Homo sapiens: one gene and its partners. The protein of the gene in region 1 purifies or fractionates together with the protein of each later gene. This does not show direct contact. Each region holds a gene or a part of one and is shown on either strand. Other genes may lie near its edges.

Region 1 (5,258 bases):
CGTGAGCCTTGTTTGTGCCTCCCTCGAGGCCTCTCCAGAAATGCTGGCCAGTCACACCTCCTGATGGCCTCAGGGGCCCAGCCAGTGTGGGGGTGTCTGGTTACCCCTTGAAAAGCTGACCAGAGAAGACCCTGAAACTCCAGGGAGGGCCATTGAGCTAGGTAGACCCCTCACTGAGCGTCCTCCAGGCTGGAGCAAGCGCTCAGAACAGGCCGGTGGCTGTAAGAGATGACAGGAAGAGTGGGGCCTGGGGAGGGGGAATGATGGGTGTCGTGTCAGAGGTGGTCTCCTCTGGCTCACTGTCCCCATCATCCAGACCTTCGGCGAGGGAGGGGACTATGCGGACCAAGTTGTCTTCAAAGTGCACCTGCTTCTTCTTGGCCAGGGAGTCGGCTGGCTCCAGGCTCAGCTCCATCAGGGTGTTGGGGGGCTGGAGGGCACTGGGCTTCTTAGTCCCCTTCAGGATACTCTTCATGTGGATGAAAAGGGAGCTGGGCCCCTCCTTGAGGGCCCCATGGAAAGTGTAGGTTTGCTCTGTGTCCCCAGAGCCGGTGGTGCTCACAGCGCTGCTAGAGGGGTCTGTGTACTGCTCTGGGGAGGCCAGCACCTCGGGGGCAGCTTTCCTCTTCTTCCGCTTGCTCAGAAGGAAGTAGGCCAGGCCGGTGATGATGAGCATGGAGCCTGGAAAAGAGCCAGAGGTCAGGGCTCTAGAGGAGTCACGGAAAAAATCCGGAGTCCTTGCAAGCATGTCGTGCAGCAGAGCTCCTGCAACCCGGCGCTGTGTGGCCATTCACAGGCCCCTGTGGCCCTGGCCCTCTTGCCTGGCTTGTCCTCACACCCCACATCAGATTTGGGGGTCCACTTGGAGGCTGGGATGGGGATGCTAAATGGCAGGAAGGATGGAGGCTCTGCTTTTCAACATGGTCTCCCTGGAGGGCTGTCTTCCCTGTATTGTAGATGGGTTCATGAGGAGGGGGCACAGTTTTCACAGATAGGGAGCAGAGAGGAGAAGGACACTAGCAGAAAAGGTCGTGGATGAAACTGAAAAGGTGGGAGCAAGAAATCCTGGGTTCTCTGACCAGAAACCAGCTGGCCAGTGGTATGCACCCGTGAAGTGGAAGTAGGAGATGAGGCTGTGAAGATTTTCTGGGGTCCCACCCTGAAGTGCCTTTCAAACCAGGCTGAGGAGTTTGGACCTGAATGAGTAGGCACTGGGGAGATTCAGAAGGGTTTGGGCAGGGAAGTGGCCATGTCACACCCTTGGGAAGCTCAGACCACACATGGTCAGTGGGAGGAAAGGTGAGGTCCCCTTTGCGGTTCCACTTCTGTACGGCTCTGTGAAGGAAGGATGCACTTCTTGGGACATTCCTGCCATTTGATCAGCATGGAGTATGTCTGGCATTCCGATGATTCCTCATGTCCACCCTCTAGGTCAGAGAGGGCAGTGGGGCAGGTAAGGTCCCTGGAGCCACCACTGGAGCTAGACTTTGAGGGGCTCAGCTCCTCCTGCTCAGAGTCCACCTGTGCTGGGGCTGCATATCTCTACCCCTGTGCTCTTACCTGGGATGGTCACGTGCCAGACCAGGACCGGGTGGAGGAAGCAGGCCACCGACAGCAGCAGGTAGGCCAGGAACTTCTGGAAGCAGCCCAGCCAGTGGGCTTTCTCCCTTACTCTGTCTGCCAGGGACCCTGGTTGACACCTGGGGAGAGGGAGTCCAGGTTAGCATAATGTGTCCCAGGAAAACCCCAGCAAGACTGGATGCCATGGAGTCTGGGCCAGGCCCTGCTGTGGGCATGCTCTGCAGTGGGCCCTGGCTGAACAGAAAGCCCTAGCGGTCCTTGGTGTGGGTTCCACAATGAGTGGATTTGCCTGAGTCCCTCTAGAGGGTCCACAAGTTTTTGAAAGGCTGCCCAGACCTGTTTTTCTGGTCGAAGGGGAAGCAAGTTAAATGTTCTCAGGATGCTGCATGAGTTAGTGAGGAAGACAGCTGGAGGCTCAGGGCTCACTGGGAAGTCTGCACTAATGCAGAGAAAGTGTGCAGTTTGGGAGCCACCTGCCTGGGACAGTTGTGCTTGTAGTGCACTGCATAAGAGGCTTGGCCAGGTGAGTGAGCAGGCTGGCACCCAGCTGTGCCCTGTTCACCCAGCCTTGCTTAGGCACAGTACAGTGTTGGCCCAGAAGGGCTTCTTTTCTAACTGTATACACAGGGACCACACATAGCCCTGGCAGAAGCCTGATGCTGAGCAGCTTCCTTCAGGGGCGCTGCCTCCATGTTTCACAGGGGGCAAGTGCCTGCCTTTAGACCCAGCGCCTCCATCCTCTGAATTGGCCTAGAGCTGGGGCTCTACACAGCCACATCCTGCCCCTCTAGCTTTGAGGGAGTGCTCAGGCTGTCCAGGTGGCCCAAAGCACTGCTCTCTTATGCTCGCAGGCTGGACTGCCATGGCTCACTGGTGCCCCCTGGTGCCCATTCCTGCGTGTGTGTGGTGGCAGGGTGCGGTGGAGTCCATCCAGGGTCCATTCCTCCCCAGCCTTCTCCCCAGCTGAAGTTTCAAGCACAGCTTGGCAGTGGAATTCAGCAGAAAGGGGAAAGCTTTCTGCCTTAGGGCTGGTGAGCCTGAGAGGCAGCCAGTGGCCTTGCAAGGTGCTGGGACATCTGGATCTGAAGACTGGCTCTCTCACTGACCACCCAGGGACCAGTGTCTAGGTTCTGAGAGCCGCAGTCCTCGGTCTCACCGATAACAGCTTCCACATACTGAGTGTAGGCTGGGAAGCAGCAAGGGCCTCACGAGATCCTGCAGGGTCTGCACTCCTGCCCCACGAAGGGGTGTAGAGACATACTGCCCCTGACTTGCCCCCGGGCCCTAGGAAGAGACAGAGCCAGTTCCCAAACCCAGGTCTGCTCACTCCCAGCTGGGCCTTCTGCAGGGTCCTCACCCCATGGCAGATGGCTCAGACACTGGGGCCCAGTGACTGGCTGCTCCTGGTGAGGGGGAGCTGGACTTTTCTGGGGATTCTGGGCAAGGACAGGCCCTGAATGACTGTGTCAGTTGGTTCTCTTGGTTGGGACCAGGGCAAAGAAGGCAATGGAGCCCCTTGGGCCTGTGCCCACCTCCAGGCCAGGCTGATTGTACCTCGGTGGGGGGCTCCTGTCCACAGTGGCTTCAGGAGCAGGACATCCCCTGGTTGTGGGCTCTTGGGTGGAGACATCTGTGGTGTCTGGGGCTGGGGTGGACAATGGAGGGGTCTCTCTGGAAACTACTTACTGGAAGCAGATGGCCAGCAGCTGAGCCACAAAGTAGGCCCCTTCACATATGGAGACAGCGGCTCCTGTAAACCTGCAGGTGGAGACAGGTGAGGGAGGCTGGCGCCTCTGTCTTCCTTTGCTTTCCTGAGGGCTGTCTTCTCACACGTGGCCTCCTGACATCACATCTACAGCCAATGGACTCACCTGGATTCCCCCAGACAACATTCACCACGGGCTGTCTCCAGGACATGGCGTGTTCCGGACTGGGCCATGCTGGGGAGAGGTGGGGTCTGGGGTTCAGAGATGGGTGGGGAGGGCACCGTGGCCAGCAGGTGACATGGCCTTCACCTGGCACCCTGTGTGACACTGGCAGGCACATCCTTCTACCTGCTGGTCACCAGGATGGACACCCACTGCCTGTGTTCCAGCCTTAAACCTGGACCTGTTCCTGACCCTTTCCTTCTTCCTTTTCCTATTATCCAAATAGTCACCAGGAGCTGTTGATTACATTCCTTCAATACCTTCCAAATCGCTCCTGTTCTCTGACCTCATGGGCATTGCCTGGGTTCAGGCCCTGCCCCCTGGACCCCTGCACCAGTTCCACTTCCTCACTTACCCCAGGCCTGTCTCCTGCTCCCCCACTGTGTCACTCTGGGCTGCCTGACACCTGAATCTGATCATGTTCCTCCTGATACAGGATGCCTCAAAGGCTCCTTGTGCTCCCAGTGTGGTCCATGGATCCTGCAATCAGCATCTCCTGAGGAATGTGTAGAATTCATGGCTCCCAGGCCACCCCTAGACTCACATCAGAATCCTTGGAAATGGAATATGTACTTACGGAGGGTCTCACTGCCTATCCTCCATGTTCCCTTGACAACACAAGAAGCTATCAGGTGCCACAGGGCTTTTGCACAAGTGAGCTTTTCCTGGAAGGCCTTCCCCTTCCCTCTCCAGTCTGTCTGGTGACCTCCTCTTACTTCTCCATGTGGTACCATATGACCAGAGTCACTAGTCTGTGAACCCCCAGAGGGCGTTCCCTGTCTAATTCTTCTGTACAGCCCAGGCTCACAGTGGGTCGGGCTTATTGGGCTCCATTAATGAGCATTGCAATAAATGAAGGAATGAAAGTGGATAGTGTTGTGCAGAAGGTGGCTTGGGGTCAGGGTTTCCTCAGAGCCATGGGTGTTTCTAGATTGTGTGATCACAGGTGAGAGGTGTGACCTTTCTCTGTCTTAGTTTCCTCAGCTGTAAACTGGGGTTATTATAGTGCATCAACAGTAAAACTGTTCTAAGAATTAAATGATATTTGTAAAGCACTTAGGACCATGCTTGGCACACAGTGATTATATCAATTCTAGTTATCATTTCTCTCTCCCTGTGATTAGTTAGATCATTTAGTGATCTCCACTCCTCTCAGTCTCTATGCCTCCCAGTGTGAGCCTAACTCTTACCCCTTGGTTTTAAAATGATAATAACTAACATTTATGTAATGATTGCTATGGGCCAGGCATAATTCTAAAGGCCTTACAAATATCAACTCATTTAGTCCTTGCAACAATTTTATAATAAGTACTATATTATATTATAATAAACACTATAATTACTGTCAGTTTACCGATGAGGAAACTAAGGCACAGAGAGGTTTGCCCCATCACCAATGGCCCCTTATCAGTAGCAGGGGGAAGATCAGAACCTAGCACGCAGGCTCCAGAGCTTGTGTGCCTAACAGGCACATCAAGACGTGTTTTGCAAAATAATTGCCACTGCCTTTTTCTATGCCCTGGGACAGAGGGGTATATCAAGGCTTGGGGAATAAAGCGACTCATTCAGACTTCCTGTCTGGTGCTATTGAGTGGCAGGGAGGGACAGACAGGGCAGGTACTGAGTGCTGATCCTGCAGGTGTTAGAGAACAGGGCACAGCAAGGGGCAGGGGACCCCAGGCTGGACTGGACCACCCAGAGACCACATGGGCATAGGGTCCCCTCAAAACAGAGACAAAACAGGGTTCT
Region 2 (4,010 bases), on another chromosome or scaffold:
CAGTGAGCTGAGATTGCACCATTGCACTCCAGCTCGGGTGACAGAGTGAGACTCTGTCTCAAAAAAAAAAAGAAAAAAAAAGAAAAAAATAATAATCCAACAGCACATCTAAACAAGGCTTAAAGTTGTAAAATAAAATTACACTGTGTGGAGGGTGTGTGTGTGTGTGTGTGTGTGTGTGTGTGGGTGAGAGAGAGAGAGAGAGAGAGATGAGGTCTCTGTCATCCAGGCTGGAGTGCAACAGTGCCATCATAGCTCACTGCGGCCTCCAATTCCTGGCCTCAAGCGATCCTCCCGCCTTGGCCTCCCAAATAGCTAAGAATAGAGGCATGTGTCACCACACCTTTTTTTTTTTGTCGTTGTTTGTTTGTTTTTATGAAACGGAGTCTCGCTGTGTAGCCCAGGCTGGAGTGTAGTGATGCAATCTTGGCTCACTGCAACCTTCACCTCCCAGATTCAAGCGATTCTCCTGCCTCAGCCTCCCTAGTAGCTGGGGTTACAGACACGCACCACCACGCTGGATAAATTTTTGTAATTTTAGTACACGGGGTTTCACCATGTTGGCCAGGCTGGTCTTGGACTCCTGACCTCAGGTGATCCGCCTACCTCGGCCTCCCACAGTGCTGGGATTACAGGCGTGAGCCACCATGCCCGGCTAATTCCTGTATTTTCATACTTAGTTGTATTTCCTATTAGGGCCTTGGATCCCGAGTATAATTTTGTACTCAAATATAATTTATAAATAAGGCCTTAGCCTCCCAACAAGGTCAAAGTAGCTAAAAAGTAAGTCCTCCCAACCACTGACATTACCAGCCCCCAGCCCCCAGTCCCAGCCCAGCGGGCTAACAAGGGTCCGGCCTCAGAGAGGGTCTCGGGGATCCCAGAGGTGGGAAAGTCTCCGGAGGCGCAGGCCCCGCTCTCCACCTTCACCAGGGTCGGCGGCAGCACCACGCCGGGTCGCGGGCTGGCTGTGCGCGCCGCGGCCCCACGCCCACTTCCGCTTCCCGTGCTGGGGGCGGTGGCAGGGCCGGTGGGCGGTGGCGGCTCCCGGTCTCGGCTCGGGCACGGCCCTGGGCAGGCCGCCCGCCAGCCGCAGGGGCGCTCCTGAGCTTCGCGGGGCCGCAGTCCGGGATGCCTGCGCGAAGGGAGGGGCGAAGGGCCGGCCGTTGCCGACGTGGGTGTTAAGTGGCCGCCCCAGCCGGCGACCCGGAGCCGAGAGCGGGCGGCGGAGCCTGAGCTGGACGCGGCCACGCCGGCGCGGCGGTGAGCGCAGCCCGGTCTGGCGCCTGCAGCTGCGGGGAGCGCGCCAGGCAGAGGGAGCGGGGAGCGGGGCGCGGGGCGGGCCTCGGTGTGCGGGCGGCGTGACCTTCCCGAGCGGCGGGGGAAGCGGCCAGCGTCGCAGCGCACGTGCCGCGGGACTCGGAGAATCTCGGGGTTGTCGGCCTCCTTCCTGCAGTGCCCACCTGGTGGGAACTTTTGTCCTTGTTTGCCCCCAAGTCCTGTCATTTGGCTGCGGGGCTCCGCGCCTCAGGGGCGCCAGTGCTGGGCAGCATGGAGCCGCTTGTGAATGGAGACTTGCTGGCTGCCCAGGAGTGGGCGGCTGGGCAGGGGCGGTGAACGTTTAGGGTCCGGCCAAGAAAGTTGGAAGTCGTCTCCCTGACCTGTTCCTTGCGAGGCCCGGGAGGAGACGCGCCTGGCCGGTCCTTGGCGGCGAAACTGATTTGCATCTCCACGCTTTACCTAAAGCCCGGGCTCTGGGGACTGGATGGCGAGCTGGCCTGCGGCTCCTTTAGCCAGAAGCTGGGATCTTCCCGCAGCAGTTCGTGTTCCCTGGTGGAAAATGCAGCCTCATCTACTGACTCTCCCTTCCAAAAAAAAGTTATTTTCCCCAAGGGTCGAGAAAAGTGGGTGGTCGGCACTGTTGTTCCTCAGTTGCACCCTGGTGTAATTTGAGAGAGGGGTCAAAGGCGCTGAAAAGATTCTTTTTTCTATTCCAAGTGCTACAGCAAGCTCATAAATCAATTTTAATTCATGCTGAACAGTCTTGCCTCCTCCAAGCCCTGTGTCTTCTCCAAGCCAGAGCTACACATAATGTGAATTAGCTGCCCACTCCTTCTGAGTGAATCTGTTAGTACCCATCATCGTTTTCTATCCTAATAATTCTAATGGCTATTTGTAGAATTTATTTGTTTGTTTATTTTTTTGAGACGGAGTTTCGCTCTTGTTGCCCAGGCTGGAGTGCAATGGGGCGATCTCGGCTCACCGCAACCTCCGCCTCCTGGGTTCAAGCTATTCTCCTCCCTCAGCCTCCCGAGTAGCTGGGATTACAAGCATGGCCCACCACGCCAGGCTAATTTTGTATTTTTAATAGAGACGGGGGTTTCTCATGTTGGTCAGGCTGGTCTCGAACTCCCGACCTCAGGTGATCCGCCCGCCTTGGCCTCCCAAAGTGCTGGGATTACAGGCGTGAGCCACTGTGCCTGGCCTATTTGTAGAATTTAATGTGTTTAAGTTTGGCTCACCTAACAGGGTTTAATTCTTAGGGACAGATAGAATGTAATGTGATGTGACTTTCCTTCAAAATTAAGAAGGAAGTGTCTGTGCCAAAAGAAATAAGCGCATTGAGGTTTATCTAGGAGGCCACATTGTACTTGCCTCTGTCTGTCTGCTCAGTTGCCCCCGTTTTTTTCTTTCCCAAAAATATAGGGTTGGGTGTTTTGTGTTGCCTTTGGCCAGGTTGAAATACTCAGATTAACGGTTGGTTTGTAGGCACAGGCCTGAAAAGACAGGACTTTGAACTGAATCCTCTGTCACTGACAGTTGTGTGGCCTTGGAGAAGACCTTGTCTTGCTCCAGGCTTTAGTTTGCCTTCTGGGAAAGGATTAGGACCCTGATAAACTTTTTATTTATTTATTTATTTATTTATTTATTTATTTTATTTTTTATTTTCTATTATTATTATTATTTTTTTTTTTGAGACAGAGTCTCACTTTGTTGCCCAGGCTGGAGTCCAGTGGCACAATCTCGGCTCACTGCAACCTCCACCTCCCGGGTTCAAGTGAATCTTCTGCCTCAGCCTCCTGAGTAGCTGGGACTACAGGTGTGCATCACCACGCTGGGGTCATTTTTGTATTTTAAGTAGAGACAGGGTTACACCATATTCGTCAAGCTGGTCTCAAACTCCTGACCTCGTGATCCTCCCACCTCAGCCGGCCCAAAGTGCTGGGATTACAGGCGTGAGCCACCGCGCCTGGCCAGGACCCTGATAAACTTTTTTAGGAAGATACCAGATGGCCACCACCTTTTCAGCCTAGTGAATGGTCCTGTCTCTCCAGACCTATCAACAGCATATAAATCAGTGTCTTGCACTTCTAACTTAGTTGCTTTATTAAGTAATGTGCCGTTGTTGCCACTGGTTTTAAATTTTTTGTGAATAAAGGAGGATTATTGAAGTCTCGTCGTTGGCAAGATGCTTCAAGAGGTTTAAACAACTTCTCCACGGCCAATGTTTCCTGTTGACGTTCAGGGTGACATTGGTGTTAGGAGCGTGCTTGGTGTTCATCTCTGATCCAGCACGATGGGTCACACGGCTCCTCAGTGTGATGAGGAATAAGTTGTTCCTTATTATTTGCAAATAAGTTACTAACACCGTTTGAAAACTGTACAGGATTGGTCGTTGAGTTGGATATTTTAGTCAACATTTATTAAGCCCATGCCTCAACAGTAGTTGACTTTTGTCTAAAGAGAGAGAAAGAAATTCTAGTTTTCCCAAATGCCCAAGGCTCCAACCAAAACATACTGAATCCAGATTTCCAGAGGAAAGTCCTGGCAATTTGGATATTTAATAAGTGCTCCAGGTTATCAAGTGGATTTGGACACAACGGCCCAGGTGTTGTATCTCAAAGTGTGAGTCTGTGGACTGGCACTGTCCGCCTCACTTGGGAACTCATCAGAACAGGCAGAACCTCTGGTCCTGTCCAAGGCTACTGAATCAGAGGCCGCATTTTATT
Region 3 (3,500 bases), on another chromosome or scaffold:
TGGGGCCTTGGACAAGTAGCCTGGCTTTTCTGAGCCTCAGTTTGCCTTGTATTTGATCTGGTTCTCTTGCTGGGTGATTGTGAGTTAGATGGGAAAAAGGGGGAGAGTGGGCTGTGAAAAGCTTAGAGGGATGGGAAGAAGTTGGGGTGCGGTGTCCGTAAATAAATGTGCAGAGCCTTGCACAGGGCAGGGTCCAGGCACTCACGTTGTCACCAGAGGGGTCGTCCTCGGTGCCCGCCTGGATACCGTAGGCCAGGAAGCAGAGGATAGCCCCGATCCACAGCAGGATGGAGAAGCCCCCGAAGAGCTGCCGGCAAAACTTGACCCACTCTGGGGTGGTAGGCGGTGGCGTGAGTGCGTTAGGCCCATCCCGGGCCAGGATCTCCTGGGCTTTGCTGTGGGTCAAACCCTGAGGGACAGAGGACTCACACAGAACCCTCCCTGGGCAACCCTGGCACCCCAGGCCTTCACCAGACCCCCAGAACTTAAGACACCAGCCACAGCCCCTCCTCCCTCAGACCCAGGGGTCCTAGCCCCCAGCTCCTCCTCCCTAGTTCCCAGGGTCCCAGCCCACAGCCTGGCCACACCTGCACACAGTCTGTGTTGTATTTCCGGCAGACCTCTTCCACTGACATCTTGTGCTCTGTCTGAGGAACAGGAGTTTGGGGGAGACGGTGAGTGCCTAGGCCAGCCAAGAACTGGCGAGGTTCTCTGGGAGGGTGTGCGGGCAGAGGGCGAGGCTTACCATAGCCACCTCCTTCTTGAGGTCATCCAGGTCCCGGCGCTCCTTGCCCTTGTTCTTCTTGGGTGAGTCCTTGTCATCTTTCTTGTCCTGCGAGGTGGCGATACGATAGCTGTCAGAGCCACCAGACTGCGGGCGAGAAGGGGTTCCAGGAGGACACCGGCCCTCCATGCCCCAGCTATCCTCCTGGCCGGTGCCCCTGCATCTCTGGGTGGGGGGTCTCTGTCTGCCTCTCGGGGTCTCCCTGTGTCTCCCGGAGCCTCTGGGTGACTTCACCTCCCTTCTGCCTCTGGTGACTCTCAGGCCTCGTGAGTCTCATCTGCTGCAATCAGCTTCCCTGTCTCTGGTTCTGTGTGTCTCTGAGTCTCTGTCCCCGAAGGTCCCTGTCTGGCTTCTGCCTGTGTTTCAGTCTCTCTCTGTTTCTGTGCCCATCTTTGCGGGGCTCTCCCCTTTTGTGTTCTGTGTCTATGTGACTTTGTTTTCGTTTTTTGAAACAATGTCTCACTCTGATGCCCAGGCTGGAGTGCAGCAATCACAGCTCACTGCAGCCTCGACTTCTGAGGCTCAGGTGATCCTCCCGCCTCCGCCTCCTGTGTAGCTGGGACTACAGGTGTGTGCCACCACGCCCGGCTAATTTTTAATTTTTTTCTAGAAATGGGGTCTCACTACACTGCCCAGGCTGGTCTCTAACTCCTGGACTCAAGCGATCCTCCTGCTTTAGCCTCCCAAACTGTTGGGATTATAGGAATAAGCCACCGTGCCCCACCTCTATGTGACATTTTAACTCTGCTTCTGTCTCTTCTTCCCTCTCCCTGGCCCTGTCCAACCTTCCTACATATCTGTCTTTTTTTTTTTTTTTTTTTTGAGACGGAGTCTCGCTTAGTCGCCTAGGCTGGAGTGCAGTGGCATGATCTCAGCTCACTGCAAGCTCCGCCTCCCAGGTTCACGCCATTCTCCTGCCTCAGCCTCCCGAGTAGCTGGGACTACAGGCGCCCGCCACTACGCCCGGCTCATTTTTTTGTATTTTTAGTAGAGACAGGGTTTCACTGTGTTAGCCAGGATGGTCGCAATCTCCTGACCTCGTGATCCGCCCGTCTCGGCCTCCCAAAGTGCTGGGATTACAGGCGTGAGCCACCGTGCCCGGCCTCGTATCTGTCTTTTCTATGTCTCCACGTGTATCTCCATCTCTTTCTCCTCTGTCTGTCTCCCTTGATGTGTATCTCCAGGTCTGTTTTTGGCTCTTGGTCTTATTGCTTTGTTTCATCATCTCTCTGTCTCCTGTCTCTTTATCTCTCCATCTCTGTATCTCTGTCTTTGCAAGGCTGTTTCTCTCTCTTGATAGCTCTCTCTCTCTCTCTATCGCTCTGATCTCTTTATGTTGTCTCTGTCATTCTCTATCCTGATCCCAGTCTCTGGGTCTCTCTGCATGTGTCTTTCTATGATTTTGTCTCTCTCTGATCTCTGGTTCTTTGTCTCTCTGCCTTGCATGATGTCTGTCTCCATCTCTTGGCTGTGTCTCCCCAGGTCTGGCTGAGTTTCTGTCTCTCTGGGTTCTTATTTCCCTCTGAGTTGGCGTCTCAAGGATCAGTACTTTCTGTCTCTGTCTTTTTCCGTCTTTCGGTCTGTCTCTCTCTGTCATTGTGTCTCTATCTTCATCTCTCAAGCTGTCTCCTCTGGGATGCTCACATCTCTCCCTACCTGTCTCTTTTCCTGTTTCAACCTCTCTCTGTCTCTCTCTCTGTCTCTCTAATATCTCTCTCTGGGATCTGCCTATCTCTGTCTCTCTCCCACTCTCTCTCTCTGGGATCTCCTCTCTATCTCTGAATCTCTCTTTCTCTCTCACTATCACTAAGATCTCCTCTCTTTCTCTTTCTCTCTCTCTCTCTCCCTCTCTCTGTCTCTCTCAAATCTTCCGTCCCCCTCCTTCCCCATATATCTCTCATTCTCTTTCTCTCTCTCCCTCTCTCTGTCTCTCTCAAATCTTCCGTCCCCCTCCTTCCCCATATATCTCTCATTCTCTTTCTCTCTCTCCCTCTCTCTGTCTCTCTCAAATCTTCCGTCCCCCTCCTTCCCCATATATCTCTCATTCTCTTTCTCTCTCTTACTACCTCATCCTGGAATTTTCCTCTCTGTCTCTCTTTCTCCCACTGTCTCTCTCTGGGCTCTCCTCAATCTCTCTCTCTCTTTCTCTCTCTCTCTGTCCATATATATATATATATATATCTGTCTCTTTTTGTAGGATCTTCCTCTCTCTTTCGCTGTCTGTCTCTGGGATCTTCCTCTCTCTCTCTGTCTCTTTCTCTCACTTTCTCTCTGGGATCTTATTCTCTATTTCTGTCTCTCTGAGATCTCCTCTCTCTGTCTCTGGAATCTGCCTCTCTATCTCTGTCTATGTCTCTCTGTCTCTGTCTCTCTCACTGTCTCCCTCTGGTACCTTCCTCTATCTCTGTCTCTGCCTCTCTCTGGGATCTTCCATGTGTTGGGCCCATGGAGCGTCCTTAACAGAGGCTGGGCATGGCCAGGTTCCTGGAGGACAGAGCAGGAGAGTTAGAGGCAGAAGCCCTAGTCCTGGCTTGAACTGCGCATGGTGTGAGTCCCTGAAGTTCCAGTTTGGGAGCCTGGGCGGATGGGGAGGGCAGTGTCCGAGGCTGGTGGGAGGGGTGGGGCGAGGCTGGGTGCTGCAGGGGCCGCTGACAGGTCCCGCAGGCCCAGGGCCAAGCTGGGATCGGAGGCTCAGCGCGGCTCAGCGCTAATCTCC
Region 4 (3,500 bases), on another chromosome or scaffold:
ATGTTTGTCTAACATAAAGTTACATTCTCTGCTGAGAGGTTTTTTCAAAAAATCACAGAACTTGGAACTACATGTAGAGTATGGTAGAGTGTCCCATGAGAGTAATAACGGACCATAGCAAATGTGTAAGTTTGGAGTACCTTTCTCCGTGTTGTAGTCCAACACTGTGGGACTACATTTTAGTCCAGGTGTATTATAGTGGTCAGTTGAATTTATATAGCATGAATGTTTGCATTAAGCTGTGCTAGTAAGAAGATTGATCCTTGGGGCAGATCAAGGATCCTGTTCTACACATTTTGAGGAAAACTAAAAAAATTTGTGGAGAAGTAAAGCATTTTAGTGATTAATAAAATGTAACAGTTAATAGTGCATCAATAATATGCTCACTAAAAGCCACATAAACAGTGGGTCATTTAAATGTTTTATCAGACTACCTATAACTCCATCTTATTTCTTCATTTCCATTTGGAATGCATGGAGTAATTCAGTAATTCATTGAGTAATTCAGTAATTCATTGAGTAAGACAAATATTATAAACAAAATAACTTTGAATTTCTGAGTCATGTGCAAACTTGGAAACTGTGTTATAAGTTAAAAAATTGTTTGCAATGCCAGTTGCAAACTGCTTCAATAATGTACAATGAGAAGAGACCCTATGGCCTAAGCATAAAGCTGACATCTTCTTAGTGTAACTTGTCTCAGACAATTTAGTGTATCCTCTCTGTAGACTTTTTACTCTTGGGAACGTGGAGAGCACTGAGACTAAGAGTTCGTTTCCTCCTTTCACTGTGGTGTCATCAGCCTGTCCTTCACATGCACATTTTCCCACACTGGACTCTTCAGTCTTCTGTCCTCTTTCTCACCCCTAAGAGCTTGGCACTCATATTGCAGAAGAAATAGTGAATAAGACTGATCTCATTTTACTGAATGTTAAGCTTCACATCTATATCAATGTGAGAAAAAGGTCATAACTTGGGGCATTTAAACCTTACCTTTACCTTTGTCCTCTTCTGTAGAAGTCCCTGGCTTGGCCAGTAGGCTGTTCATTTTGACAGATGAGTGGAAATTACAACCAAGCATAAAGCATCATCAGCCTTAATGCTTAAATAATTTTATGCACTACACTTTAATTAAAATCGATATAATTGATAATAAAAACAAATGTTTCAATATGGTAAAAACGCCATTGATACTAATGTTTAGTAAAGTTTTTTACTGTAACTGGATGTATATTAAATGTATATACTAGACCATTGATTGACAAGGCTATTACAATTATAGTTTAATTTTTTAAACTATAATTTCTATGAGTTAAAATACCAAGTGGTCTTCTTAATAAATTGTCATATGCTTTACTATTTCCACTTATCTTTTTATAAAGCCTTTGCCTTGATTAGAATGCTAATTTACATAAAATTAGTCCTTTCGAATTACTGCTACTACTTCAACTACAATGGTGTGTAGGAGAGCCTATGGTGGGAATGCTGTAGAACAGGGGTTTGGCAAACTGTACAGGGCCAGATAGTACATACTTTAGGCTTAATGCAACATACATTCTCTACAGAAACTATTCAACTCTGCTCTGGCAGTGTGAAAGCAGTCAGAAACGTACATGAACAAAAGAGTATGGCTGTTTCAACAAAACTTTATATACAAAAACAGGCGGCAGTGGATTTGGCCTGCAGGCCATACTTTGCTGACCCCTTTGGTAGAAGATATTAGGATGGTAGTTGGTAAAGGTAGGAAATGGGAGAATCAGAAAACAATCGAGAAAGGTGGTTTTTCAAATTATTTTCAAATAGCTTTCAAATAACATAAGCAGGAGATAAATTATTTCAGATTGCTTTCAGATAACATAAGGAAAGAGCTTTTATAGTGTGAACCAACCCTATGATACATAATTTTTATCTCAGACTACTGAAACATCCTAGAAGCTGCATCAGGATACAGTATTTGAACAGATTAAAGTCTTTATTATAAAGCTGATATAAGTTAGCTATGACCTATGAGCCAAATCCAGCCAAGCACCAGCTTTTGTAAGTTTTATTGGGTGACAGCATGCCCATTGGTTTATGTGTTGTTTATGGCTGCTTTTGCACTACAATGGTAGTATTTCTCAGATTTGTCCATACACCTCACATACATATGTACACACATATACCACAGTCCTCCAGTGTTTAAATCATTTTTAGTGTATAAATTAAAAACTCAATAAGATCCTTAAGATTAGAGCTTTTTCGTAACTCAAAACCAAAGCACTTTTATTGTCAAGTAGAATCTAAATTACAAAAAAAGATTGTTCTATAATATGGCTGACGTCTACTATTAATAATTTGTTGTGCCAAAGTGAATGTGGACCTGTCTGCTACTGTTCATGCTGTTGAGCATTCAGCCTGCATTTTCTGAAGCTGACTTGCTAGTATTTTTTTTTTTATCTACTGTAACTATTCTGAAAGCTTCATTTGTATCATGTGTTTTACATGATTTGGTCTTCATTTGAAAGATTTTCTGCCTCTGTTCTTCTCTCATTAGCACAAGACAGTTAAAGTAATGTTACTTAAAGCCAATAAGAACATAAATATAAACAAATGCCCTAAAATCAGGAACAATAGTAGGTTATATATTTTATCTTCTCAATAATCAAGAGCGTGTTTGAGTTTTCTTTACATTTTCATAGAAATCAAAACACAAAATTTCCCCTCAAATTCTTGGGCCCCTGAAAGTATGTCTGTAAATTCTGGTTTGAGAAACATTGATCTAAACCTATGTTTCATTGAACACCTAGACTGAATACTTGAAACTAAATAACATCAAATTCTCTGATGAGATAATTTAACCATGAATTGATTGAGATTAGGACATGTCTAAACCTCACTTGGATTTTCCGATACTTAAGAAACAGAGATCACTAGGGACAGGTTTACTTCCCATTTCTTTGACACTCTCAGAGGCTGTCAACCTTTTCTATCATGGACCCTTTCACAGACTGGTGAAGCCTATGGACCCCTTCTCAGAACAATATTTATAAGTGCATACAATAAAATACATAATATTATAAAGGAAACCAATCATATATAGTTTTCAAAATTTCTTTTAAAATTAAGTGTATGATATAGCGGTATTGCTTCTTTATTCATGCATTAAATACCAAGATATAATGAGAGTTCTGATAACTTCCACAACTGTCATATGACATGAAAATGCCTATGATTTCTATTGAAGACAAAGTCATACAACCTGCTAATATTATCACAGTTTGTTGCCTACATTCATAATTGAAAGAGATACCAGATTTTGGTTAGAAGTTAAAGAAAATGAAGGTGTAATTTTTTTCTTATCTTCACATTCGCAAATCCCTTGGGGTGTTAATAACCCTTACACTATAGTGTATATGTGTGGTTCATGTATGTGTGTATATGTAAAATATGCACTTACTACACATATTCATACCGTATGTTAGATCTTCTAGAAAGTAATACACCCTTAACCGTGTTATGTC

What was found. Proteins that work in one complex are often made in the same cells at the same time.
Region 2: the proteins of TMEM72 (region 1) and SLC25A15 purify together in Homo sapiens (affinity purification with mass spectrometry; one large-scale study listed by BioGRID and IntAct). This does not show direct contact.
Region 3: the proteins of TMEM72 (region 1) and ATP1A3 purify together in Homo sapiens (affinity purification with mass spectrometry; one large-scale study listed by BioGRID and IntAct). This does not show direct contact.
Region 4: the proteins of TMEM72 (region 1) and PEX3 purify together in Homo sapiens (affinity purification with mass spectrometry; one large-scale study listed by BioGRID and IntAct). This does not show direct contact.

The regions. Positions count from the first base shown.
Region 1 is NC_000010.11:44,930,079-44,935,336, reverse strand, and holds part of TMEM72 (transmembrane protein 72), read right to left. Parts: intron 3,340-5,258; coding exon 3,268-3,339; intron 1,701-3,267; coding exon 1,561-1,700; intron 682-1,560; coding exon 203-681; 3' UTR 1-202.
Region 2 is NC_000013.11:40,788,401-40,792,410, forward strand, and holds the start of SLC25A15 (mitochondrial ornithine transporter 1), read left to right. Parts: upstream 1-1,210; 5' UTR 1,211-1,263; intron 1,264-4,010.
Region 3 is NC_000019.10:41,987,731-41,991,230, forward strand, and holds part of ATP1A3 (sodium/potassium-transporting ATPase subunit alpha-3), read right to left. Parts: intron 872-3,500; coding exon of another isoform or gene 833-871; coding exon 746-832; intron 648-745; coding exon 588-647; intron 410-587; coding exon 206-409; intron 1-205. UniProt on the Homo sapiens protein: This is the catalytic component of the active enzyme, which catalyzes the hydrolysis of ATP coupled with the exchange of sodium and potassium ions across the plasma membrane.
Region 4 is NC_000006.12:143,485,305-143,488,804, forward strand, and holds part of PEX3 (peroxisomal biogenesis factor 3), read left to right. Parts: intron 1-3,500. UniProt on the Homo sapiens protein: Involved in peroxisome biosynthesis and integrity. Assembles membrane vesicles before the matrix proteins are translocated. As a docking factor for PEX19, is necessary for the import of peroxisomal membrane proteins in the peroxisomes.